Regions from separate parts of the Homo sapiens genome. Here regions 2, 3, 4 and 5 are each linked to region 1. The links come from fine-mapping of genetic effects on gene expression. A gene starts in region 1. Each other region holds a variant in brackets. All regions are shown on one strand. Distances are between the middles of the regions.

Region 1 (6,070 bases):
AGAGAAAACTGAGAACCCCTGTCTAAGATAGGGCTTCTCAAAGTTTAACTTGCATAGGAATCACCTGATAATCTTGTTAAAATGCAGATTTTGATTAAGTATGCCTGGGATAGGGCCTGGGATTCTGCCTTTCTAACAAGCTCTTACATAGTGCCAAAGCTGCTGGTCTATGGGCCTCACTTGAGAAGTAAAGGTCTAAGCCATTTGTATTTCACATTGGCTTTGAACCCTAAGATACATTCTTAGGTTTCAAGTCTAATGAAAGCTAATTCTAGCACTCACAATATTGATGTAGCTGGAATGATGATGCCAAATGAGAGTATCCTACCATACTTTGGGGAGAATTCTTTCTCAGCCTATAGCTACTCAGCCTTTCTTGACATTGGGGGGTCCTTGACTTCTTATGCCTTGTATGTGACACCCCTGTATCACCCCTTTCGTTGCAAATTGTACATCTTCTGCTATTTCGAGCTCCTTGCTGGTGTCACTACCTGCTGGCCAACAGTTTGGCCATTACTGATTGAACCATGGTGTTTGGGTACTTAATGTGAGTATTTTATTGCAGAGGTTTTCAATCAGTGTTTCCAGAAGCCTTAGAGTAATAGTTCTGAAACCATAGGGCATGCATCAGATCACTTGGAGAGCTTATTAAAATACAGATTGCTAGGCTCCACCCTCAGCATTCCTGATTCAGTGAGGACAATTTGAATTTCCAACAAATTCTCAGGAGATCCAGATGTTTCTAGTCCAAGGATCCAGAGGTTCTAGACAGAAGGAAGGGAGGTGGTGCAATGGGCCTCTTGGTCTTGTTACATGACTTCTTATCTTATAGTTGTATTTGGGGATTCTAGACTAGATTTTATTAAATAAAAAGATTATTTTTAAAAAAGCTTGAATACTGCTGTTTTGTTGCCTTTGCTTTTGTTTCATAGAAATCAATTGAAGGTGAAAATAAATAAAAATGCTAATACTAGTGATATGGGGAGATATCATCAGTTTAAAACAAATGAAATACTGAATTTATTTAGTATATGAAAAGAGAGCCTTATTTTCTTCCCTTGGGACACTCTTTATGATGAAAAAACGTAAAGGAAATACAATGTATGCTGGAAATAAATTACTAAAGACTGTGTCTAAATGAGGAGGTGCATTTGGGAATTTTATTGTTTTTAGGTTTGCGGGTGAACAGAATCCCACTGCAATAGTGCATAAGACTCTTTCCAGCTATCTCCAGAAGAAGGAGATAACTAGCAAGGTTTTCACTGTTAGAGTTTGTTCAGAGCGGAACCTAAAGGAAATACTGGGAAGGTCACAGCAGTTTCATCTCAGCTTATTGGATTGGATCAAAGTAATTCTACTGCAAGGCAAGGTATATCATTCCATTTACAGACAGAGAATGCATGAAGTCCTTCATTTCACACAGTAGGTGTGAAGAAGGTACCTTGGTAAATTTCCTATTTGCTTTCAGATAAAGTGTATTCTTAAACATGATGTGGGTAGCTGCCTGTTTTTGTGTCGCCTCTGCAAGAGACATCTTGGAATAATAGAAACACCAGTGTCTGAATAGCCTAAAGTGGAGCTTACTTTTCTGTTAGGTGAGTCACCTTTAAAAATGATATTTTTTAAGGATAAGCGATGAATTTTAGGACGTTCTTCCCTCTACTTCCAACGTCCACAAGAATAAACCACCAAATTCAACGTTTTACAGAGGCCAAGTGCTTAGGTTTTGTGTGTTTGTTTTTAAGAGTTTTCTTGCAAGGAAACTGGGAGGGAACTATAAAAGGGCTTTAGGCAAACAGGGTGGGCGGGTGCAGGGCTTTAAGCTGCAGAAAGGAGAATCTGGAAAGAGCTTTTAGGAAGCAGATTCTCACATGTTTTAATATGAAAGAGTGGCACACGTGGTGCTGGCATTCCATCTTACCATCAGTGGAAGGTTTGAACCAACATCAAATTTTTCTGGAGCAACTTAGGTAATTATTACTTGAAGAATATGCATTTCAAAACTAACACCTTTAAGAGACAATGTAATTCACCTGCGCTTCCCCGCCCCCCCCGCCCGCGCCAACCCCACCCCCCGCCAACCCCGCCCCCGACTCCGCGAACGCCGAGGGGCCCGTGGTCTGCCTGAGTGACCTCCATTTGCTCTGTCATCTCAGGACTAGAAGCCATCAGCCAGCGTACGCCCTCAGAAAACTCTCTTCCCTTCTCGCGGGTCCGCCTGGCTCCCGGAGGCGGCGGTGCCAGGCTGCCGGAGTTAGCCAGCGGCAGGCTGCGGGCGCCCGTCCCTCCGGTTCACCCTTTCACCCCTCCTTCACCCCCGGAGCGCCAGGCGGGTGCCGCGGGTTTTCCGCCCACTCGGAAGGCAGTGCTGGCGAGACCAGGAATTGCAGGGCCTCTCCGCTTTGGCGAGCTCTGGAATCCGAGTCCTCCCCACCCCAGCCACTCTGCTGGGGCGCTAGGGGCTCGAAAAAGCCTGGGGTTGGCTGAAAGACACTCGGATTAGAGACGCAGCCAGCCTCCAGGGAGGTCTGAACTTGTCTTCGACCTCCCCGAACCCCTCCGCCTCTGCGCTGGGAGACGCCCAGCAGCCGGGCGGGCCCGGGACGTGTAGAGCCAGAGCACTCCGCAGCGGAGGCAGCGCGCGGCACGGCCGCCCGGGGCATCCCCGCGGCTGGGGGGCGGAAGGCGAGGGCGGTGGCAGGAAGGGTCCGCCAGGCCTGAGCTCGCTCCCCCACTGCCAGCCGCCGGCTCGGAGGCCCGAGCCGTGCGGACGGAAAGGGGCGGAGCCGCGGGCTCTGGTTGGTGTGGGCTCGGGGGCGGGGCGCGCGGGGCCGGGCCGGAGGCGGGGCTAGCGCCGGGCGCTGGAGCTGCGGGCGCACGGAGAGGAGTCGCCAGCAGCTGGAGCGGAGTTGGAGGAAGCAGCGGCAGCGGCGAGGGCGGCAGGCTAGCTGTCGGAGACGGCAAGCACGGATCGGGCACGGCCGGCGGGTCGCAGCCGGGCTGGAGGCCGGTCGGAACCGAGCGGGCAGGAGGCCACCGCTGCAGCGCGGGCCCCGCAGAGGAAGGAAGCCGGCGGGCGGGGTAGGTAGGCAGCAGCAGCCCCGGGTGTGTGTGCTCGGGCGGGGGAGGCGGTGCATGTGTGCACGGCTGCCGCGACTCTCTTCCTGTCACTGGCAGCGGCTTCTCCTTCTGCAGAGCCCCGCCGGGGGGAAGCGGGCTGGCCACCGGCCCTCCCCGCCTCCGGCATCTCCTGGCCGCCGGGCAGCACTACCCCCGCGCGCGGCCGGCGTCCTGTGAGATCCCCGCCATCCTGACTCCCGTTTCCCCCGTCCTCCTGCGAGCTGGTCCTGCACGCCGCCGGTCGCATTTGCCCCCGGAGTTGCCGACGAGCTCGGGCTTCCTCCCACCCTCCGTCACCGCACACTTCGGAGGGTCCCCGCTGTCGCCTTGCTGCAGTTTTCCGGGGCCCCTCACCGGAGGAGAGCGCCCTGGCCGCTGCCTTCGTGTTGCGGGAAGGAGCGCTCCCTTCCCCCGTGGCCCTCCAGCTGCAGCCAGGGTCGCTGCCCGGGCCCTTCCCGGGGCGGGCGAGGCGGCGGTGGTCCCCGGAGCTCGTCCCCTAACCCCCGCCTTCCGAAGTTTGCCGCCCTCCTCTTCCGGGGTGGGGGAAGTGCGCCTCGGGGCGGTTGGTCGCTGGGGCCCTAACTCAGCGTTTATTGCCAGCCAAGCTTGGGCAGGTTGTTGGAGGCATATTTAGTGGGGTCTTGGAACCGCCCGGAAATCCAGCTTTTGGAACGTGGGGCGAGGCGGGAGGGACCTGCCCAGCAATATGGAGCCGGCTGGGGAGAGCCAGGGAGCCTGCAACCCGGAGCTAAAATATCGTGGGCAATTCTCTGGAAACCACAGCTCTAACCTAAGCTCAGAAACTGCCCCTCAGATCACAAGACAAAGAGAACAGAAAACCTCTGGCCAGGCACTCCTGTACAGAAATACACTTTGATAACCAGAATTGGAGCCTGAAATGCAAGGATATATGCAGAATGGCTGTTACGTGTTGAATGCAGAATGTGTGTCAACTGGGTTTGGGGGAATTCTTCTGTTTCCCGGGGCGCTATTAATATCGGAAAGGTCTCACTTCCACCGTTAATCCCTTGAGCTGCAGCGCTGTTGGTGTCCGAGTGTGAGTCTGCTCTTTATTTGGGGGCTTCATGATTTTAGGTTTTTTTTCTTTTTTCTCTTCTTTTCCTCTTTGTCAGCCAGTGCGAAGTACCAATGGATAAAGCAGTTCCGGGTTTTGAATGCAACATAAGATTGTCATTTTGGTGTGATGAGGCTCAAGTTTTAGTAATCAGGAGGGATATTCACAGAGCTTATTGGTCAAGGCTTGATGTGGAGTTATATTTTAATGCTTCATTAGTTCTGTTACGTTTTGGCAACCTTAAAGATGGTTAGATATTAGCTAGGAAGGGTTGGAGTGGGCAGACAGGTTCATTTCTTAAGCAGGTTATTAGAATATTAGATTGTCACAGTTTGAATTACTAGGAATTTGGTGACTTCTGCACAGAAGGCCACAAGTATCTTTTAACATTGAAAAAGGAAGAAAAAGCAACTCACTAGCTATACAACTTTTTGACAGATTACACTGTTCTTGAAAAACCGTTTAGAAGAAAGCAGATAAGAGTTTTCTTAGGTGCAAAAGTTGATTAAACTTTAGGAAGCAAGTGTTTTTGACCAGTATAAAGAAAATAAGAGTAATGTGTGGGGGTGTGTGTGTGTGTGTGTGTGTGTGCGCGCGCGTGCCTGCGGCTAAAGTTTGGGAAGAAATGTTGGTTCAGAGTTAAGGTTTAAGTTGGAAAGGCCAGTGGAGGAGGCTCCCTGCCTTGCAGAACTGCTGGGTATTGTCACTGCTTGCCTCTTCAGCTTTTATATGCAGGTAGGTACTAGATAATCATATTACTTTTTCCAGAGAAGTGGATAGATTTTTATGATTGGGAGAAAGTTTAATGTATCTGATACTGGCTTGCAAAGTGTAATGTGCATTTACTTTTAACTTTCATCTTGACTTGGGACCTGTTCTTAGTTGCATAACAGAACTCTGCAGTGTACACACTGCTATTTGATGTTTTATCTGCTTTTTAAAAATAATGATATCAGTGAGTCTCTTCCTATCCATGATGCTGTATAGTCAGTGTAAAAAGCATTTTGTTTCCCATTTATTGAATGTTTTTTCTTTAGCGATTTCTTGAGTTTAAATATACTAAGCGCAGGAAATCCTCACAGAATAAAGTTGGTTCTGGGAAACAGAAGTGGAACAATAAGTTATAGGAATACATATTTTGATTATAGACAGTGATGATGGTGGTATGCGTTTATCTTTTGGTAATGTCAGTTTCACCTAACGTGATTTTTGAAGGACTTTGAATTGTAAATGCAAACCTACTCAAACTAACCCAAATTTTGTACTGTTAAAAGTTTTGGCCATTTCTTTACATTTTTCCATGACTGTCATATAATTTTTAGGTTGATATGTTGATTGAACATATCAACCTAAATTGATATGTTCAATCAACATATTGGTCGTTCAGGGGAGTATTGTAAAAAGGCATCTACTCTGAAAGATTGTTCACATGATCATTAAAATAGGAACAATTCTAGTTCAGCTTTTATTGTGTTTGCATTTTGTGATTTGCAAAATACATGTTTTATTGAATAAAGAGATGGTGAATGAGCAGGCTGAAAAAAAATTGATTTTTATGCTCAAGTAGAATATAGCCAGTTGAGATAATGTTTGTGTTGGGTTTTGGAATTCTCTCACGTCAAGGCATACACAATGCAAAAGATATTGTATGTTTCATATGAGCTCCTCCAGCTCTCCCTCTTGCAGGGCACAGGGTTTGCAAGTGAAGGCAAGAGAATGAAGCATTTTAATGAAGCCCTGGAAGACTAGAAAGTTAGTTATCAATGGAAGGAATTATCAAGTTAGTTTTTACTTTAGAAAGCAGAATATAAATTATATCACAGCTTTTTATCAAAACCTAGGTTTTAATTAATTTTCAAAGTATTCATATCATTT
Region 2 (5,000 bases), 40 kb after region 1:
ACATACTTTTTCCTTGAATATTTTTGTTACCTTAGCTAAAGAATTAATGCATTGTGGTATTTCTGCTTGTCATAGTTTTACTTTAGAGTAGATTTCGCTTATATCTTTGTATTTATGCTTTGAGCTGTGGTTTACCAATTTCCTAGCATGTTTCATGACACTTATCCTACATTTCAGACAAGGATTTATGTGTCCCATAGGATTCAAGCTGGACTTGGAGAAAGAGCCAGCTAGCAAATGGAATTATTCTGACTTGTGAAAGGTTCCAGCCTTTTAAAACTAGGCTCTGAGAAATAAAAAAACAAATATTCTTGGGAAGAAACTGGGTTTGTGAGTACTTGGCTAGAAATTTTAGGAAAGGAAAGAACATTTCCTCTGGCCTCGGGAGCACATTCAATGTGAAATATTGCTGCCTTTAAAAGAGCCAAACTTAAATTTCTATTTGGATCATTTACTTGACTTAAAAATAAAGGGATCTATTTTTTTTTAAGGTTCAGAACCCTATTTTAAATAAAATGACATTCTAGTAAGTCAGGCAAGATGCCCCCAACATGAGCTATTAATTAAAAACAGCCGGAACTTCTGGAGGTGTTAGCAAGTATCTACTATGAGCTTGGGGATTGGCGAAATCTGGTACAAGTTAGTTCCAGCTGCGCACATTTGCCTTATTACAGTTCTTTATGATAAATTAAATGCATGCTTCATACATCCTTTGGTGTAGTCATATTCTCTCAGCACTTGACTAAGCAGGTGGAAAGCTTATTTAGTCATAGGATGACTGAAAACAATGAACTATAAACCCATGTATATCCACTCCAAGAAAAGAGCTAATAAATGTCATGTTTTTTATTTTCCCGTGGACCCCCTTTTTTTTTTTTTTTTTGTATTTTATAACCTTTCCAGAATCTTGAGTGATTTTTAAATGTTTGCCCTTTGGTCATAAATGCAGCAAGTAAATGTGAGTCTGCACACTCGAATGTTGTATAAATCAGTTGACCAGTCAGTGTTGGAGCAAACTTCTCAGGATTGCTCTGTGAACTCCCTGTTCTCTGGCAGTTGCCAAATACAAAGATAAACCAGGAGAGACTTATTCCCAAGAAAAGAATGATTCTGCATCCTTAACTTACATATAAACTGTTGAGATGTTTCATTGTTTTGTATGGTCAAGCCCCTTCTCTTGTTCTCTCTCTTCATCAATTAGTATGGAAAATTGGAAGTTTACTGAAAAGAGTTTCGAATCATGGGATTTTAGATTTGAAAAGGACCAGAGGGATCATCTACTCTTCCAACAAATAAAAAATAAAACCCCCAAAGGAATGAATGATCCATGGCTGGGACATTGGAATCTCTCTATAAAGGAGAAATCATATTAAGGTATTTTCATCTTAGGCCTCTAACCCCAAGGGTATCTTTACAAAGACTTTATTTTAGTGAAGCCTTCAATAAACAGTGACCTCATGTCAAGAATTCTAAAGAGAGGGTTATGGAATATTGGTTTGATATTAAAGTCATTGTTATCTTGGAGCTGGCCTGAATGGACTAATAAGTGGCCTGTCACCAGTTGTAACTTACTTTTACAATTTTAATGTGATTTAAGGGAAGACACTCTTGGAAATGCTTAGTTATGGTTCATACCCATAATCGTGTTTCTTTTAGGTCTTAAAATTTTATATAATACAGGGGAGTAGATTGCATCAGTACAGTCTTTTTCTTTTTTTCTTTTTTTTTTTTATGATGCAAACAAAGCAGTATCTTAAATTAAATCAAGGTTTCTTAAGGTTCCAGATTCTTATTCCTAAATTTTCCACTGAGTAACCTCCAAATTCTTCTCCTGCCTTTGTCCCTAGTTGACACAAGTCAGGCCACAATTTTTTTTCTGCAAATGGACGAGCTGCTGCTCAGAGGCTGCACTTACTGGTGAGAGATCCTTCAAGGGAAATGAATCTGGAATGGCCTGGAACATTTGTCTTTGGGTTGCTCCAGGGCTTTATTAGAGCTTCTGAGATTTCTAAGTAGGTGATGAAATTTAGCAGCATCTGATTTTCTAAAATGACCAAAGGAGAATTGTTTCAGTCCCTGATTTGCAAAGTACTCACTTTTTGGTCCTCTCAAAATTTTTGTCAGATAAAGATTTTTCCGTGCCATGGATATAAGAAATAACCCACTCTTACCGATAAAGGGAAGTTAGTGTTGTAAAGGAACAAATGGTGATTCAGGTTTGGGAGACTTTGGAGGTATTCATTCTCCACTAAGCTATATCCCAATACCATCATTATCTGGGTCAGCCTCCGATTCAGCCTCATCCTGTGCTTCAGCAGTGGGGTAAAACAAATGTCACTTGTTAGCTGCTTCTTCATGACCTTCATAGACTATGCATTAATTTGAAGCCCTGCCCCCAAAAATAGTGCTTGGGGGGGAAATGAGTTAGTGATTTTGTGAAGATAATGGGAGTTGAGGAAAACACTTAAGTTTGCTTTTCTGAGCTCTAGCTTCATTTTACTTCTCAGTCTCAGTATTTAATTGTCTCCACTGTTTTTTCTAACTTGGAAGGAAATCAGATGGCGAAAGTGAAACATACGGCTATCAATGTGAAAAAGCTGCTCCCTATAGCACTGGAATTCTCTTGTCATTAATAGCTCTTGTAGTCGACAGATTATAATATACAGAGTCATAAATGTTCTTGTTGTCATTTGGAAAATTACAAATTCCCAAAAAGTGGTGATTATTTGGGGCTTTGGGTCTGCAAGACGTTTCACATTAAAATGCTGATAATATCTTCAAAAACCACAGAGCCATGGGCCTTGCAGGCTTGGTAACTGACTGCCTTTGTGGTGTGGTTTTATTCTTTCTACTGAAGCACCTGGTTGAAAGGAGTGGGATGCTGAATTCATAGGGGCGTGTTCACAAAAATCTTTAACATCAAGTATCT[G/C]TTTATTCAAAATAGTGCATAGTTCAAAGCAACCTTGATTCCTTAAACTAGATGTTTTTCTGTTCTTTAATGAAAACAGCCTGAACGTGGTTATTAATCTGAGTCTTTCTCCATTCTGACCACCCCACTCTGTTTTTCTCTTTGAATATCAAAAAAAAAGTATAAAAACATTTTGTAATTTTTTATTTATTTATTTTTGTTGAGACGGAGTCTCGCTCTGTCGCACAGGGTGGAGTGCAATGGCGCAGTCTCGGCTCACTGCAAGCTCCACCTCTCAGGTTCACACCATTCTCCTGCCTCAGCCTTCCGAGTAGCTGGGACTACAGGTGCCCGCCACCACGCCCAGCTAATCTTTTTGTATTTTTAGTAGAGACAGGGTTTCACCGTGTTCACCAGGAGGGTCTCGATCTCCTGACCTTGTGATCCGCCCGCCTCGGCCTCCCAAAGTGCTGGGATTACAGGTGTGAGCCACCGCACCCAGCAACATTTTGTAATTTTTTAAAGGGCTACATAAATTCAAGGTATTATTGCTGTACTTCTTTTCTGTTACCTTATGAAGTTGATTGTTGTTGAAGCACCAACAGTATGCATACATGGGTATCCAGAATGACCATCTAGTCTCAGTTGTGCAAAATTCACTATGTAGTCTCATGGATTGAGAGGGGCAATTAGCAAGAGTGTGAGATAATGGAGAACAAAAAATAATGCCAAGCTGGGTTAAAAAAAAAAAAGTTTGGGAAAGAAAAAACAAGTGCTCAAGACAAGCCTCCTATTTTTCAGTTTGGCCTAGCCCTAGCCCTATTGAAGAAGGTTAGTACATTCACCTGGCCAGTTTTAGCTAACTTGGTTACCTGGCAAGTGGCGGGGATGCAGTACATTAGTACTTGTCCTGTGGTACAGAGCATGTGTCTCAGGGTGTGGCCACTCCAGGGAGAGGGAAGACGTGCTTTATGGGGCCTCCTCAGCCATCACTGTGATATGTGCCACCAGGAACCCAGGACCTTTCATGGTCCAGTCTGAGGTGGGAGCACCACAGAAGCAAGAGCTGCCTGGCCCAGCCAAGCCCAGATTACCCTAAAATCTTACTGCTTTTTTCCCTTCAGCATTTTAAATTATAGGAGCAAGTAAAAGTGTACATAACGCAAGGCAATCTGAACAGGTGGCTGATAGCTGCTCCATCCAGAGGAAGAGCCATGAAGTTCCCCCGACCCACACATTTCACCCTGTCTTGTCTACCAAAAATCACATGAAAATGCAGACATAACCATGGAGGAGTAACCCATGAACAAAGGGCTGGTAATTACAGTTTAATGCTGTTCTTTTTACCCCTTTGGCTGGCTGGCTGTGCAAAGGCAGGCCCCGGTAATTACGGTTTAATGTTGTTCTTTTTACCCCTTTGGCTGGCTGGCTGTGCAAAGGCAGGCCCCACAGGGGAGTAATGTATTTGTGACAGCCAGTTGGGGTGGGGAGAGATGGGCTGTACTACACTTTGAATTTATTATGTTCTGCTAATACTTTTACTCCTATGCTGGAAAGTTATGTTTTCCTTCCTTTGTTAGACAATTTTTGCAGAGTAGTTTAACATTTTCAAACATTTACTATATATAGCACTTTTAAAATCCAGGAACTGTCATTTCCAAAGAAGATTCCATGTCTATAATATTAATTCCCTGTCCTCTCCTCATTGCCTTTTTCAGACATCCACTGTAGATAGCCTCTGTTCCCCAGGAACTAACATTTCCAAAGGAAACTCCCTTGCCTATAATTCCCTGTTATCTTCTTGTTGCCTCTCCTGAATAATAATTTTTGATTCAGTACCTTTTAGCTATTTATAATGTTATCGTATAATCTGAGTTTGGGAACTGCTTGCCACTTCCAGTTTCTGACACCCAAAACACATTTTATGCTTAGAGAAAACAATAGCACCCTGACTTTTTAGAAGACATAGTTTTCCCTTGGGGATCCAAACTGGAAGCAGATATTTGAGCTGTGAACACATTTTTTCTTAGAAGAGTCAATTAGGAGCTGGGTTGAAGCTTCAGTCTATGCACTTAGAGTCAGGTTTTAGGAC
Region 3 (6,070 bases), 85 kb after region 1:
GGACTCTGGAGAGCGGAGGAGAGAGAGGCAGAAGAACCCTGGCCTGAGAAGGTTTGGTCCAGCCTGGTTTAGCCTGGATGTTGCTGTGCACGGTGGACCCAGACACATCGCACTGTGGATTATTTCATTTTGTAACAAATGAACGATATGTAGCAGAAAGGCACGTCCACTCACAAGGGACGCTTTGGGAGAATGTCAGTTCATGTATGTTCAGAAGAAATTCTGTCATAGAAAGTGCCAGAAAGTGTTTAACTTGTCAAAAAACAAAAACCCAGCAACAGAAAAATGGAGTTTGGAAAACAGGACTTAAAATGACATTCAGTATATAAAATATGTACATAATATTGGATGACTAACTATCAAATAGATGGATTTGTATCAATACCAAATAGCTTCTGTTTTGTTTTGCTGAAGGCTAAATTCACAGCGCTATGCAATTCTTAATTTTCATTAAGTTGTTATTTCAGTTTTAAATGTACCTTCAGAATAAGCTTCCCCACCCCAGTTTTTGTTGCTTGAAAATATTGTTGTCCCGGATTTTTGTTAATATTCATTTTTGTTATCCTTTTTTAAAAGTAAATGTACAGGATGCCAGTAAAAAAAAAAAATGGCTTCAGAATTAAAACTATGAAATATTTTACAGTTTTTCTTGTACAGAGTACTTGGCTGTTAGCCCAAGGTTAAAAAGTTCATAACAGATTTTTTTTGGACTGTTTTGTTGGGCAGTGCCTGATAAGCTTCAAAGCTGCTTTATTCAATAAAAAAAAGAAATGAAAAAGATATATGAATATGACAAAGTATTGCTGAGTCCAACAATGTTGTTTTAAGACTCTTAAAATACGGTACCTGGCAATGTTTATTTCATAAAGAATTGTGAACTTCTTGAATCTAGGGAGGGGGAATGTAGTGAAGGGATGTATCAAGTGGGGTGGTGGGAGGGGGAGGCAAGGTTATATGCACTTTCTCATGATTTACAGAGAAGTGAATAACTGCAAAGTGAAGTTGCTTCTTCTACTTCAGTCTTCTCTCACTTTGATTTGCTAGTTGTTATCAATTAATGACAATTACAAACCTACTGTATCTCTAATACAGTGTGACTGGTCAGGTATTTCAGTTCTTAGGAAGGAAGTGCCAAGTTTGTTTTTGGGTTCCTGGAACAGCGCTCACCTTTGTTTAGAACACTGGTTTAAAGGGATAATCATCTCTGTCACATTAGACTATCCATCATGACCAGCAAATACTCATTTTAGGAAAAAAAAAAGCATGATCTGAAAAATACTTTTGGTGGTATGTTGGTTACCCTCCTAGCTTTCCATTTGGTTTAGAACATAAAGCAAATAGACACAGTCATACTGTCACTGCTCTGGACTGTGTGGAGCTCGCTAAAGTCATGGTCATTGCAGGAATCCAAGTGGCAGTCCTTCTCATTCATTCTAATCATTGTATGTGCTTCACTACGGGGGGGAGAAGGAAACGTTAGCATCATGTTTCCCATTTAGGGCAGGAGTGAGAGGTCTCTCTTCCTGATTTAGATATGCAAAAGCTGGTATGTTCAGTAGGAACTGTACATGTGTTGGGAGGCATAAAGACTAATTAGCAACCATAATATGGTCACTACCCTAATAGACTAAATGAAATCTTGCAATTTCAAATTACTCTTTCTCCATATTAGATTTACCCACAGCTATATTTCTGTTTAAGTACTAGGGTGAGGGTTTTCTGTTACTTTGTTTTTTAATGTTGTTCCTTTTGAAAGAATCAGTCTTGCAGCTGAGTGAAAAATCTGTGGAATGTATTATTTGTCCTCTTTACATGAAACTACTCATACTTAAGCAAAAGTCAGTCTTATAGCAAGACTGTTAGCCCTCAAACTTGACTCTACTGATCTGACCATTTCCCTCTCATCGCCAGACAACTGACGATTTCCCTGGTTTTAGTCTGCGTCTCTGCTTTAAAGTTATTGTGATATCCTTCTAGATCATACACAAGTCTAACAGTTAATTAGTTAACAGTTTTTAAACTAGGTTTGTGGGTATTTTTTTGGTAGCACATGTATGCTATTACATACAAATTTTTATTTCTAAAATATAAGATCTGAGATTGAATATTTTCATTAAAAGCTACAGTTTTGTGAATCTTTGTGCTTCAACATTCTTTGCAAGATGATACGGTATTTAGGCATTTGCCTTATTTTTGCATCTCACAAACATAAGTGCAATAGATCTTTTCATTGAACAGCAAAGTAGGATTCATCATTCCATATGACTTGAGTTACACCAGACCTGTTCTGCCCAATGCCTTTTTGATTACAGTGTAGCTTGCCCACCGCATTTGTCGTTTTAGATACTTTGCTAGCCGGCCACTTTGGATTTCATCAGACAGTCCTAACAATATTGTCTGAACGGCTGAATATGAATAGATACAGCAGAGGCACTCCTGATATATGATTTTTATCCATGCGTCAGTTTTTCCCACCCAGTGTAGCATCCTAAAGATAAAGCCAGAAGCTAAGCTGCAGTGAGGCTGTGATTGGGCGTAGAAGTGGGAGCATTGGGACCTCACATTACACACACGAGAGATCATAACCATGTGAAAAGGCAAAAAGCATGTGTTTGCAACATCTGATAACTTCATGGCCTTTGATAAATGTATATATGTATATGTGCATGGACTGTGTTTCCAGTACACCTTTCAGCCAAAACAGATCCACAGTAGTTGTTGAGTTCAAGTACATAAAGTACATAACAAGCGAACGTCTAGTACAATTCTTACTTATGTGTATGGGATTTTTCCCTTTGAGGTTGCTTTGTTTTGTCTTACAAAGGTGAAAATTGTTTGTAAGTGAAGTGAGAAGTTCATATTTCTTTGGCTTTTTTGTGTTTTTAAAAGTTACTCCTTTTAGGGAGCTGGTCTGATGACTTGCTTAGCTTGGAAATCCTTGTTTTCAGTGTGTCGAGTCAAAATGTGTTTATGTGAGCTGTCACTGTGGGGAACCAATTGCTTTGTCATATAGCTGGTTATGAACTAGTAACATGTTTGGGAAGTCCTACTGATGTTCCTTTGGAAGAAAAAATCTGCTGGTTTTAACAACTGTGCTTTTGCTATGTATGGTATCCAAGTTAGTTGAAACGCAGACACTGAGATCTGTTTGAGTTTAGGGTCATTTTTAGAAAGGGGCAGTTTAAAGCACAATGTCTCACAT[G/A]GGACAAAGTTCCAAAATGCCAAATTCTTATTTTTTAAAAAGCTAGTTCTATAAAATACTGGTATTATGGGTGGGGAGGAAATAGAATTGAGTCAATTGGAAAGACTATCCAACTTAACATGAAACTTGTCACCATGAGATAGCATTAGCTGCCCAGGATGCTGCTATATATATATATATATATATATATGTGTGTGTGTGTGTGTGTGTGTGTGTATATATATATATATATATATATATATATATATATATATATGTGTGTGTATATATATATATATGTGTATATATATATGTATATACATATATGTATATATATGCACATATATATATGTATTTAAAAAAATCAAAACAAAAAAAAACTCATTTATACCTGTGTATTTTTTAAAGCTACAATCTGTTCAATGTTTTTAAAAATCTGTTTATATGACATTGTTAAAATAAAGTTGGTCTTTTGACGAGAGGGAGGATGTCACGGTCAGTTGTAACTTTGCCTTCACAAGGCAACTGGGGTGGGGGGTGGGGGTAGTGTGCCTCCTTGACATTTCGTTCAAGTTATAGATTCAATGGAGCTATGTCTTGTTTTAAGTTGCTTTAATGCATTGTATTAGATCTTCAAACAGAATAAAGGTTGTTTTGAAACTGAAGTTTTGGGTTGAAATTTCACTTATCACCTAAGAAATCTTTCTAAAACAGCTACCTTTTGGCTTATAAATGTTGCTGCTATTTCTGTTGTCTCCCACCCACTCCCTTTTGATTGTTATCACAGTATCTCATTTTTGTAAAGTTGAGAAGGACATTGAGTGGTCACATGTAAGTAATACATATGAGCTGTCTTTCATAATTTCACTGTTTTTTGAGACGGAGTCGGAGTCTCACTCTGTTGCCCAGGCTGGAGTGCAGTGGCGCTATCTCGGCTCACTGCAAGCTCCACCTCCTGGGTTTACGCCATTCTCCTGCCTCAGCCTCCCGAGCAGCTGGGTCTACAGGCGCCCGCCACCATGTCCGGCTAATTTTTTGTATTTTTAGTAGAGACGGGGTTTCACCGTGTTAGCCAGGATGGTCTCGATCTCCTGACCTCGTGATCCACTCGCCTCGGCCTCTCAAAGTGCTGGGATTACAGGCGTGAGCCACCGCGCCCGGCCAATTTCACCATCTTAAATGAGGAAATACACCTAGGTAATGTCCCTTCAAGGCACGTTCTCGCTATAGGAAAACTAGAATGCCCATCATCCTTCAATTCTCGCCTCCTCCGCATTCATACCCAAACCTTGAGAATCATCCTCTAAGAACGAAGTGTCCAGTTTTGTCTCTGTTGTGCAGTCTGCATATTTTGAACACTCACAGTGCAGGGATGACATGGGACTGTAGACAGGGAGCTAAGTTACACCTCAAATGCAGATTTTACATTGTATCACCTAGTCAAGATACACAAGTCTTACTGTAGGATAACTTTCCCATTTGTTTTGATTGCTAAGTGGACTTAAGGCAATACCACTTTGCATGTATATGGTGTTTACATGTAGACACAGTGAGGGTCTAGACCTGAAAGACATAGTCTAGTAGTAGAGGGGAGAGGGACGTACAAATAATTACTCTCAGGGCAACAATGACTAATATTTTTTGAGTATGGCAGTAGCTCCCAGACTGATGTTCTGCTTTCCCCCTGCTCTGTTTGGTATCACAGAGAACTATATTCGCTGGAGCGCTTGTCCTGGGGCTTCTAGGTGTCTCTTCCCTGGCTCTAGCTCCTGCCAGATAGACCCTCATTTTCAGGTCTGAGCAAACCCCCTCTGCTCTAGCTCTCAGGAGAAGGCTCTGGAAACATTACCTACTCCCATTTTTTACTCCAGCCCAAGAAGTGGTTGCAGCTTTATGCTGTTGCTAAACGTCTGGTTTCCCTCACCACCCCCATTTGGTTTCTGAACCCTTCCCTCACTCAAGTAATTATCATTCAATTATTCCAGTAAGAGCTAGGGTAATTCCCCCCCCACATACACACACTGGTCTCTGACATATCAAGTGATTATTATCTGTTAAACTCTTTGTTTTACTCTTTCCACAATTACCTGGGTAAGATGATTATATTCCCATTCTTTAGATGAGAAAACAAGCATAGATGTGAGATGACTTGCTCAAGATCATGCAGCATCTGAGAACAGAGTTGAACGCATAGGCTTCTCAAGCCAGAGCTCTTTGCCCCTATGCTGTAATGTAATAGACTTTCAATGGAAAATGCACAAGAGAATGCAAAAAAAAAAAAAAAAAAAGGCTCACTGGTAACTTTTTGCTGGGGAGGTAACCATGTGGCTTTCAATTAGTAGACAGTGCACAGGTGGTCAATGATGAATCACAGGAAATAGCCTGGGCTTGCTTTAAACCAGTGGTTCCCAAAGTGTGGTTCCCAGACTAACAGCATTCACATCAGCATCACTTGGAAACCTGTTAGAAGTACAAATTCACAGGCCCTACCCCTGACCTACTAACTCTGACACTGGAGCCCAGCAATCTGTTTCAACAAGCTGAGTGATTTTAATGTATACTAAAGTTTGAAGATCACGACTTTAGATCACCTGCTTACTGAAATAGTACTTCTAGCATTTTAACTAAAAACCATTACCATTAATGAGTGATATGTTACTTTCTAATTTATTTTCATAATGTAGGCCATAGGAAAAAGAAAACAGATTGATTTGCAGTTTAGGAGGCCCAGTCTGCTCTTTTTATCTGTCTTTAACCAGCTGTGGGAAGTGGGCCAATTCAAGGCACCTTCCAGGCCTCCAACTCCTTATCTGTGAGATAAAGGTATGGGCCTCTGGGACTCCTTCTAGAGCATATGCTGTGATTAAGTGAGCTGAATGAAGATTCCCA
Region 4 (5,000 bases), 64 kb after region 1:
CCGAGTTATATGAGGTCTCGATAATATTTTGTACATTTCTAACTGCATTAGAATTCAGACCCCCATCACCTTGATTCAGAGAACTAAATCTGGTAGTTTTACTTCTAGCAGCACTCCCTTCCAATTTATTCTTAACACTGTCATTAGTAAAGCTGTTACAAACGTAGTATCTTGCCCATCAGCCCACCTTTGCTCCACTGAGTACACAAGTCCCCAGATTACTTTCCTCAAGTTATCCTTCGCATTGCTAGTGTACATCCTTCAGCAGCAGCCAAAGTCCTCTCCTTTTCTAGAGGCCCATGGTCACCCCTGCCCCCAGATCTTTGTTTCTAGCATCCCTTTCTTCTGCTGGGCATTGTGTCTTTTTCCAACCCAAGTACTTAGAGTGCCATGCGTAGTGAGTGCCTGGAGGGTGGTATTGATTAGTTTTACCCCCATTATTGGATTGCTTGACCTGTTTCCCAGCTGAGGGATTTACTGGACAGGTATGCTCATCTTATTTTCTGAGATTGTCTGATATCCACAGGTTAGATTAGTAATACTCAGACAGAATTAGGGAGAAACATTCTAAAAATGTTCAAATTATTTTCATGGATATTCTTGAGATTGGTTGCTAAAAGTCTGTAGTATCTTACTGTTGAATCCATCACTCTGTTGGTGACATTTACATGAATTCTGAGACATATCAACTCAAGTCTTAGGAAATCTGGGAATATGCATTTTTAAATTTTTCCTGTTGAGGTTTTAGGAAACATTTACTATATGACTAACCATTCCTAGTTAGAACCCTTTTCAGTCAGGGCAGAACCACCCTCAGAGGATGTTAGGAAATGTTTGGGTTCTGTATTCGTTTGCTCAGGCAGTTATAACAAGTTACCACAGACTGCGTGGCTTAAAACGCAGAAACTTGGCCAGGCACAGTGGCTCACACCTGTAATCCCAGCACTTTGGGAGGCTGAGGCGGGTGGATCACGAGGTCAGGAGTTTGAGACCAGCCTGACCAACATGATGAAACCCTGTCTCTACTAAAAATACAAAAATTAGCCAGGCGTGGTGGTACACACCTGTAATCCCACCTACTCAGGAGGCTGAGGCAGGAGAATCGCTTGAACCCGGGAGGTGAAGGTTGCAGTGAGCCGAGATCACACCAGAGATGCACTCCAGCCTTGGCTACAGAGTGAGACTCCATCTCAAAAAGCAGAAACTTACTTCTCGTGGTTCTGGAGGCTAGAAGTCCGAGAAAAAAGCATGTTTGGTTTCCCCTGAGGCTTCTGTCCTTGGCTTGTAGATGGTCACCTGCTCACTGCATCCTCACAGCGTTTCTCCTCTGTGCCTGTGCATCCCTAGTGTGTCTCTCTCTGTGTCCTCATTTCCCCTCCTAGAAGGATATCAGTTACATTGGATTAGAGTCCACTCTAATGGCCTCATTTTAACTTACATGCAGTCACTTTCTGAGGCATTAGGAGTTTGGGCTTAGAGGGGTGGGACAGAGGATGGGGTAGGTAACCACTGAAGATGCAGCCCAATTCAGCCCATAACAAAGGCATTATTTTTTGTTGCCCCAAAGTGTGGAGGTCTGCTACTGGCATCATGGGCAGGGGGTCAGGCATCCTAAGTGCTTGCAATATGTCAGAGAGACCTCCACAGGAAAAATTGTTCTACCCCAAATGCCCGGAGCAACCCCTACAAGAAGTACGGCTAACGAATACTTTGTGTCTTGTATTTATCCTCATATTGCTTCCTTATTTTTTTTTTTTTTTGTCACATGTGAGTCAAATTGTTCAGAAAATTAGCCCAACTGATGTATTCTATAAAATAAATGTCTGAAATATTTCTTAAATTGTTTCCTAGATACACCCTCCGTGGACTTGGAAATGATCGATGTGCACGTTTTGGCTGACGCTTTCAAACGCTATCTCCTGGACTTACCAAATCCTGTCATTCCAGCAGCCGTTTACAGTGAAATGATTTCTTTAGCTCCAGGTTTGTTTTTTCTCTTCTGGGAACCTCATTGAACATACATGGAGATGTAGAGGTGCTTGTATATGTCTTGCATATATAGAAATAGTGGTTAGAAAATAGTAGTAATAACCTGTCCCTCCCCCAACAATACCACCTCAAATTTCCTCCTCCACCCAAGCATCCAAGAGAAGACCCAGATTCTCATTTGCTTGGGAAGCCCGTCTGCATGTCAGAATCAGAAATGGCTCATTGTTAACCTATTGGTCTTAACAAAGTTTGTACGTCAATGAAGGACACGGTCTTCCAAGTACTAGTGTCAGATTCAAGGAACTGGGACTAGAATCCAGTGATGGGGGATGTTCTTGTCATCTTTCCTGAGTGGCCATAACAGAATGTGTTGAGGGAAGATGGCTCTCAGTTTTAGGAGATAAGGTTCAGTTAAGTGCTTTGGGGACAGGAAACTGGTTCGTAACCTTCAAAGTTAAAACCTGTGATACTTATCTGATGCTCCTCTGAGTTAGC[C/T]AATCACACTTGAAGCTGCTCAATACTGGGTAAGTTGCTGCCAGCACACCCTGAACAGCTTGTGGTTTCTTTACACACTGAGCTTTTTGCATTTCCATTTGACCTGAGATTTCTACTTTCTCATAATGCGTTTTCTAATGAGAAGGACAAATGTACTGTGTGCTTCTCCCAACAACTTTTTAAATGACTCCTATAGCTTGAAGAAAGAGCAGAACTTTTCTAGGTGTTTATTCACTGATACCTGGAAGTAGTCGCTTACTCATTTCTCTTTTTTTTTTTTTTTAAACTTGTAGAAGTACAAAGCTCCGAAGAATATATTCAGCTATTGAAGAAGCTTATTAGGTCGCCTAGCATACCTCATCAGTATTGGCTTACGCTTCAGTATTTGTTAAAACATTTCTTCAAGCTCTCTCAAACCTCCAGCAAAAATCTGTTGAATGCAAGAGTACTCTCTGAAATTTTCAGCCCTATGCTTTTCAGATTCTCAGCAGCCAGGTAAGTGAAAGGAGACAAACATGTATTTTGGGGTGATGAGGGTAGTCCTAAATGGATTGGTCATGAAAATGTATTCTGAATATACTACTCCAGAGATGCATGTGCAGATGCTATCACACACATTCACTTGAGTGTATATAAATGAAAATGAGTTTGCTTTTAGGGAAAAGGTTTCTAATAAACTCTCTTTCTTACAGCTCTGATAATACTGAAAACCTCATAAAAGTTATAGAAATTTTAATCTCAACTGAATGGAATGAACGACAGCCTGCACCAGGTAATGCTTTTTGAGCATTTAACATTCTCTCATTGTTCATTTTTTAGAGCCTTAAAAAATGATGGCTATAAACCTCCTTTGAAGTAACACAGCTTCTTATGGAATTACAGTTGGTAGTAATATGTTACCTTGTGATTTAAAGAAAAAATAGCTGAGTGGTAGTGTATATGTTAATTATTATCCGAGTTTCAACATTTGTGGATTTTAAATTATCTTGGTTTTAGGTGAGAGTTTGGAGAGTTCCCTGTACCCTTCAACATTTATGCTTCAGGTTGTTGAAGAGATTTATGGAGTTCATTTTAGTTGTTGACATTTTTGTTTTTCTTTCTAATACTTACAAAGTAGGGGATTTATAATTACTATATAATTTAAAGTATTTTAGAATGTGTTTTTTGGAAGTGGGTATGCTGAGAAATGCCTGTCAAAATAAACATTTTCAATAATGCAAGCAGTATGAAACCAGTGTTCCCTGCAGCAAGTTCGAGCAAGCCAGACACTTCTTTGAAAGCAGGCTGCTGTTCAGTTAGCCATTTAACAAAGCAGGAAATGTAGACCATGTTAGCAATGCATTTAATTTAAACTGATGTATTTTTCTTCTACCGTGGAAAGTCTAAACAACCTCATTTTGCTATATACCAGTTAAAAGTTAGCTAATCGACACTGGTCATTTAGAATAGTAATTAGGGTACTATACGTGTGAAGTTTCAGGACCAGTAAAAGGTGTTGCTTGTAGTCTTAATTTATGCCTGGAACTTAAAATGAAACTCCATGAATATATTTATTATAGGTAATATATGCAGATTACCATATTTATCTCTGTATGAGCAGGCATGGGGACTCAGTTTCATCTTCATGCAATGGAGAGTTAAGTTGTGCTTTTTCTTAATTGGGTATTGCACAGCCAGGCTTGGTTACTTGCATCTGGATGGGGCAGCCTAAGAGAGGCCAGGGCCTAGACTCAAAACCCACCTGCAGCAGGTAGGATAGAGGATAGGGTAGGTAAACACTGAAGATGCGGGTATTGGGAAAGGTTTATGTGGACAGGCCCAAAATGTACCAAAGGTGAGAGAGAGGTATCCGGTATAGTAGATAAGGCAAGCATGGGATGTTCCAAATCACAGCAAGCAGAATGTTTTAACAGGGGTGCCCAGAATTCTAGGTAAACTACGTCAAAGAAGACTGTCAACAGGTAGGGACTAGGACTTCAGTCCAGGGGTTGGCCAAAAGGCTTCATCTCGTGTGAGTACACAGGTCACTGTGAATGGATTTGGGAGCTCTGTGCTGGTGTTCAGAGGCTGCCTTTGGACTTAGTGGAAAAGAATTGGGGTAGGGGTGTGGCACATGGCACTTAAGTTGAGGTTTATGTTAGAGACTAGGTAGAGCTGGACCCTGCTCTCAGTGAAGGGCTAGTGGGTAGTCCTGATCTTTTCAGTGGCCACTCCTCTAGAGAGAGGAGACACATGGAAGCCAAAGCCAGACAGGGTTTGACAGATACCCACAAATGAATTTATCACATGGAATTTTGGAGAATTTCTACTACACAAGGTATAGCAGAATCAGTGGTAGAGTTTGATTAGCCTGACTGGTGTAAACTAGTTAAACGCCTTTGTTAGTTTCATCCTAATTCCACCAAAGTAAAAACGGGTATCTGCACTATTTTCATAATGCCACCCGGAAAGCTGTTTGATATGTCAAAGGACCCTACATTTCTCTGCTGAGCAATTGGTGCGCCTGTTTCAAAGGA
Region 5 (6,070 bases), 22 kb before region 1:
ACTTAATTTTGAAAAGTATCATATTTGCAAAGCTAATTTAGTATTTTTAATTCCCACACTGATTTTTCTTAACCAGTTTGCAGCCTTCCCAACCTACACAGTGACTTTGACTTCTTTTTCTTTCTTTCTTCCTTTCTTTCTTTCTTTCCTTCTTTCTTTTTTTTTTTTTTTTTTTTTTTTTTTTGTAGTTTAAGATCATTTTTTTGAACAACAAGAGACAGGGAGAGGGAGGGGGCAACTACATCCCCCAAGCCCTACCATGGGGAATGGACCTCTCCCTGCCTCCTGCCCCCTAAGCAGCTCCCCTTGTACTATGGGAGGGAGACTTTGTGCAAACTCAGCCCTGAGGGGGTCACAGTGACTCTTAAGGTTGGTCAGGGCTGTAATTACAACTTAGCAAACAGAGAAACCAAAATAAAGAGGCAATTTTAGCTGCTTTCTCAGGTAGGCCCTCAAATTGTCACCTGTTAGAGTGCATTTTCTGCAGTGACTAGAGCCTGCATCTTTAGACAAGCGCTCTGTCCATAGAGTCATGAAGCTACTATTCTTGGGAAATGGATCATGCTCCACCCTTTAATTGAACAGAGTACTTGAATTCTTATAGTATTGAAAATCTCTATGAATTTAACATGGGAGGAGCATGTGCCACACAATCTGGCTGGAGGGGTGGGAGGCAGGAGTCTATGCTTATCTTCCTGTATTTTTCCTCTGATCACCAGACCAGAATGTGTTTCACTGTGGTTAGAGTAAATAAAGTCTCAGGATAACTTTTTTTTTTCAAACAAAAACAAAAAATTCAGTTGTTCTGAAAAGCACTGATAATGTGAAATAAGACAACTGTAGCTGTAATTTAAAGGGTCATCTTTGTTTTATTTTTCTTAAATTGAATATTGTTTTTTCAGAATACTTATGTTCCATGAATATATTTCTAGTTTGAAGAAACTTAAGCTGCTTTTCAAGGTTATACTTAAAAAAAAAGTCATTTAAAACATTGCATGATCCAGTTTACGAGGTTCTTAGGTCAATTACACCATTGTTATCTTTCTCTTCTTGAGCATAGTCTATAACCATTGGGGAAAATAATTAAATATAAATGTTTCTGTATTAACTTTGATTCTGGATGACTTATCTTTTTTTCTTTCTTTTTTTTTTTTTTTTTGAGACAGGGTCTCACTCTGTTGCCCAGGCTGGAGTGCAGTGGCGTGATCTAAGCTCACTGCAACCTCTGTCTCCCAGGTTTAAGCGATTCTCCTGCCTCAGCCTCCTAAGTAGCTGGGATTACAAGACGCCTGTCACCACACCTGGCTAATTTTTGTATTTTTAGTAGAGATGGGGTTTCACCGTGTCGGCCAGGCTGGTCTTGAATTCCTGACCTCAAGTGATCCGCCCTCTTTGACCTCCCAAAGTGCTGGTATTACAGGCATGAGTCACCGCGCAGGGCCTGAATGAGTTATCTTAAGAATAATATCACTGAAGATACCATACTGGTTAACAATTACTACATAATAAATTACTCCCCCAAACCAGTAGCTTAAAACCTTCATTTCATTTTGTTCACGGTTTTCTGGGAATTCAGGAAGTACTCAGTCCAGGCAGCTCTCTGTTGGGTTCTCTCATGCAGTTGCAGTCAGATGTTGACTCTGGCTCCAGTGACATAAGGATCAACTGTCATAGGTCCAGCAGTTGAGGCCCAGCTCTGCCATAGGTCCAGCAGTTGACATGTCTGCAGTGAGCTTGGCAGAGGCTAATAAGCGTATCTACACCAGCATGGCTGTCTCAGGGTAATCAGACTTTTTACATGGCGGAAGACTTTCTCCAGAAAGGCTCAAGAGAATCAGACAAGGGCTTTTTCCAGCCAGCCTCAGACATCACACAGCATCACTACAAGGTTCAACTGTTTCCTATTGAGTCACTAAGATTGGACCTCTCTAGATGGGAGGAGTATCAAATAACTTGCAGATACATTTTTAAACTGCCATACATGTGCTTTTGTGTTTTTCTTCGCAAACAGCTCAGCATGTATTCTCTTTAGCTAAAGACCCCAGTAGTTTTTGAGTTCATTTTGTGCTTCCAGAACCTAGCACAGGGTATGTGTTACAGCAAATGCAGCCAAATATTTGTTAAACTGAACCAAAGGCTGACAAGCCATGAACTCCTGCCATCCACATGAAGGAGGGATTTTGTGGCTGCCAAATTTTTCTTTTGATAAGTTAGATGGCTTATCATGCTGATAATACAACTATATATATAGATAATAGAAAACCTTGGTTTTTTTCCCAAGGTAAAGGAGTCTCAGAAATCCTGTAGTCCCACCCTTTACCTTGTACCTCCCAGCCCTCCTCACCCCACCCCAGTTTCATAGCTGAAGCCCAGAGAAGTTAAGTGACCTAACCAAGTGATAAAGGTATGGTCTCTAGTTGTATTATGTTGGTGCAAAGTATTTGCGGTTTTTGCTATCAAAAGCAATTCCAGGCATTGTTTCTTGTCCATAACAAAATATTGTTTTCTCGGTTACTGTTTGGGGTTATGACTTTATCAAAAATTGCAGGGACATTGTGGGCGTTAGGTCATTTTTATACATGAGGGTGAGGAAGTGATACTTCTGCCAACCTGTTGATCTCAGCAAGAATTCTTTTCCTCCCTGACCTTTCTATTTATTCCATCAGGCAGATAAAGAAAAGACCCAGAAAGATCTCACCAGGAGGCTGTGGGACTCCAAGTTGCTCTCTTCAGATATAGGTCAAAAAAACTAACTTCCTGACCCTTTCTTCATGCCTTGCAATAAGATCTTGTAGTTTCTATGTCTGGGGCAGTGCTGAGTCTAGAAGGCTTCCTGTGATTTACAAAAAGCCTGTGAGGAAATGGAGATGTCCCTGAGCCTGCCTAAACCTGCAACAGTGATCCATTGTATTTCCAGGGGGCAACCCATCATACTTTGATGTAAGACGTCGTTCCAGCCCTTTGGGGTCAGGAATGCAAAATGCCAAGTCATCTATTTTGCATCACAATGATGCAGTTTTGTCAGGAAGTATAGTATTTTTAAAGTGATCACCCAGTTGATTAACAAAAGAAAAGAAATCACACCTTCTCCTTTGAAGTTTGCCAAGCTTCCCTTAACTAAAGAAGGCTCTTTCCTTAGCTTGTATCAGGACCATATTCAAGACTTTTTCAATTTGGAAAATTTCATATTTATTAGGAAAGGTGAATAATAGAGCTAGTATATGGAACTAATTTCTTAGGTCAGTCAACATTTCTTTAAGTCAATTCATTGAATTGATGTTTGTGTGAATGTCTGGCTTATAGTGAGCACTCAGTACATGTTAATTCCGCTTCTTTTCCTAACACCATTGTATGGGGAATGACTCAGGTTCACAATGTTTAGTATTTCTCCAAAATACTCTGAGTCTTCATTACCAAAAAAAAAAGTTCGATAACATTTGACCTCCTGTATTTACTAAGGCAGAAAAACCTTCTAAGCTCCTTGTATTGGTCAGTGTTCTCCAGAGAAACAGAACCAATAGG[ATG/A]TGTGTGTGTGTGTGTGTGTGTGTGTGTGTGGTGTGTGGTGTGAGTGTAGGGGGCAAGAGAGTTATTTTAAGGAATTGACTCGTGTGATTATGAAAGCTGGCACATTACAAGAGCTGCAGTGAGCAAGCTGGAGATCCAGGATACCTGATAGTATAGTTCCAGTCTGAGTCCAAAGCCTGAGAACCAGAAGAGCTGATGGTGTGTCTAGTCTAAATGCTGGCAGGCTGAAGACCCAGAAAGAGCCAATGTTTCTGTTAGAACCTGAATGCAGTGGGGGAAAAAACTAATGTTCTAACTCTAGGTAGTCAGCCAGAAGGAAATTCCCTCTTACACATGGTAGCACCAGCCTTTTTGCTGTATTCAGCCTTCAACTGACTGGATGAGTCCCATCCACGTTAAGGAGGGCAATCTACTTTACTGAGTCAACTGATTCAAATGTTAATCTTGTCCAAAAGAACCCTCATAGAAATACCCAGAATAATCTTTGGCCAAATACCTGGGCATCCCATGGTCAGTTAAGTCAACATATAAAGCTAACTATCACACTCCTTTTCCGTTGAGCACTAGTCAAATTGAAATTTCATAGAATTTGTGTGTTTGTAATAGAAATGATTTTCTGGTTAACCCTGTTTTACCAAATATGTACGGTGTACCCAGTTCTCCTTAGGATTTACTCTTTGCTCAGAGCATTTCATTTTGGGGCATGCAAATAAATGGGATGCCCCCCTTATCCCTGCCCCATTATCCCTTATCCCTGTCCCTGTATGGAATACAATGTACACTCATAACATGAAACCAAAGGGAGGATGTTCTATGTAACATTACTGATTCTGTGACCATCCTAGGAAGGAATGCTGGTGCGAGCTCTCCATCTTCACTTCATGAATTAATAGACTTGTCATCGGAGGTATTAATAGGGCTTGGAGTTACAGCAAAGCTTCACAGACATTCTCAGACATCAATCACATTTTGGTGTTTGCAGCTCGAAGGCAAATCATCTGCACAATTATGATTTATATGAAATTCAGGAATCATAAATGTGCTTCACTTTGGTCTTATTCAGAAACCAGTAGCTTTTACTCATGGATGCTAGCAAGTTTGGCTTGCATGGTGGAGGCTGTGTGCTGTTGAGGTTAATAGCATGCAATTACCCGGGCTCCAACTGCAGCTCTACCAACACAGAAGCAAAAGTGGAAAACATGGCAGAGTTCTTAGAGTAGAAATAAAACTGTAAAAACAATGGTTGAAGAAGGATCTTTGTGCTTGTTTTAGATAGAATTCATTAAATTTTTAACTGCTATGCCAAAGAGACTATATCCATATAATCTTTAGACATGCAGTGAGGTAGTTACTGTTATTATCCCCATGCTAGAATTTGAAAACAGAAACACAGAGAACATAAGTAACTTGTCCTAAGGTCACTTTGATTTGAAAGTAGGGAGTGTGGTTCCAAGACTAACTACCAAACTAGGTGTTTCTTTGCTGGGTGAGTCCTCTCTCTGTCACCCAAACAAACACACAGCCTGGCCCAGTGATCCCATAGAGGTGCTGCCTTGCACTGCCAAGTCCTATGGGAATACTGGGCAAAGGTTCTTTTCTGCTTTCAGACCATACCCCTTGCGTCTCAGGTAGAATACTACAGGGGATAAATGGAAGACCAGATCCAGTTGGGTCAGAGGCCTCCCCTCCAGATCTTCCGCTCTCCAGAGCCTTTTTCCACCCTCTCCCCTAACCATCAACCACATGTCCCTTAGAGTTTCGTACTGTCCATTCCGCTCAAGACTTGGGTTTCCCTTTAATATTTTTATTGGTTTTGTAATAAACATCTTGGTGCTGATTAGTTGTTTTTTTTTTTTTTTTAACCGAGTTTCACTCTTTCGCCCAGGCTGGAGTAAAGTGGCATGATCTCGGCTCACTGCAGCCTCCGCCCCCGCCAGGTTCAAGTGATTCTCCTGCCTCAGCCTCCCGAGTAGCTGGGATTACAGGCGCAGGCCACCATGCCCAGGTAATTTTTGTATTTTTAGGAGAGAGGGGGGTTTCTCCATGTTTACCAGGCTGGTCCCGAACTCCTGACCTCAGGTGATACACCCGCCTTGGCCTCCCAAAGTGCTGTGATTACAGGCATGAGCTACCACGCCTGGCCGGTGCTGAATTTTAATTCCTCAACCAGCTGGGCTACCCTCGGTAATACCCTCAGTAATCATTACCCTCCCCATCACGAACTGCTCACTTGATCACTCAACACATAGAGAGTCTCCTTCATTCCCAATGTAGAATAGAGAGCAGAGATAACAGTGGAGAGTAAAGGCAACATGGTCCCTGCCCTCACGGAGTTTATACTCTAGTGGGGAAGACAAACATTATTCAAAGAGTTACATATAAATATAAAACTATACTGTGACAAATGCCACAAGGAAAAGGTGCAGAGTTTGATGACCCCAGGACCTGGAATTTACCTAGTCAGAGAGATCAAGGAAGGCTTCCCTAAGGAAGTGGTGCAGAGCTGAGATCGGAAGAAGCAGGGATGTTCTCCACAGAAAGAACA

Direction of the effects. Positions count from the first base shown, and alleles are read on the strand shown. Sizes are in standard deviations (SD) of each study's normalised expression. Not every link is listed here.
For the expression in monocytes after LPS of the gene that starts at base 2,888 in region 1, allele A in region 3 goes with a lower level than allele G (large effect, 1.1 SD a copy in Fairfax 2014).

The links.
Region 2: its variant is fine-mapped to the expression of PIK3R1 in whole blood (INTERVAL, PIP above 0.99).
Region 3: its variant is fine-mapped to the expression of PIK3R1 in monocytes after LPS (Fairfax 2014, PIP 0.95).
Region 4: its variant is fine-mapped to the expression of PIK3R1 in whole blood (TOPMed, PIP 0.99).
Region 5: its variant is fine-mapped to the expression of PIK3R1 in whole blood (INTERVAL, PIP above 0.99).

What each region holds. Positions count from the first base shown.
Region 1 is chr5:68,212,869-68,218,938 of GRCh38, forward strand. PIK3R1 (phosphoinositide-3-kinase regulatory subunit 1) reads left to right here and starts at 2,888. Exons shown (of 16, transcript NM_181523.3): 1 at 2,888-3,081. RefSeq lists silencers at 2,065-2,284, 2,505-3,604.
Region 2 is chr5:68,253,118-68,258,117 of GRCh38, forward strand. The region is part of intron 2 of PIK3R1 (phosphoinositide-3-kinase regulatory subunit 1); the gene reads left to right. Among named protein-coding and RNA genes, the nearest start is that of PIK3R1, 40 kb to the left of the region's middle. The variant G/C (reference allele first, on the strand shown) is at 2,930.
Region 3 is chr5:68,297,976-68,304,045 of GRCh38, forward strand. PIK3R1 (phosphoinositide-3-kinase regulatory subunit 1) reads left to right here. Exons shown (of 16, transcript NM_181523.3): 16 at 1-3,846. Among named protein-coding and RNA genes, the nearest start is that of PIK3R1, 85 kb to the left of the region's middle. The variant G/A (reference allele first, on the strand shown) is at 3,203.
Region 4 is chr5:68,277,751-68,282,750 of GRCh38, forward strand. PIK3R1 (phosphoinositide-3-kinase regulatory subunit 1) reads left to right here. Exons shown (of 16, transcript NM_181523.3): 5 at 1,852-1,983; 6 at 2,778-2,979; 7 at 3,177-3,256. Among named protein-coding and RNA genes, the nearest start is that of PIK3R1, 64 kb to the left of the region's middle. The variant C/T (reference allele first, on the strand shown) is at 2,485.
Region 5 is chr5:68,190,960-68,197,029 of GRCh38, forward strand. It overlaps LINC02219 (long intergenic non-protein coding RNA 2219), which reads left to right. Exons shown (of 3, transcript NR_105003.1): 2 at 5,411-5,530. Among named protein-coding and RNA genes, the nearest start is that of LINC02219, 4.1 kb to the left of the region's middle. RefSeq lists an enhancer at 2,600-3,139. The variant ATG/A (reference allele first, on the strand shown) is at 3,523.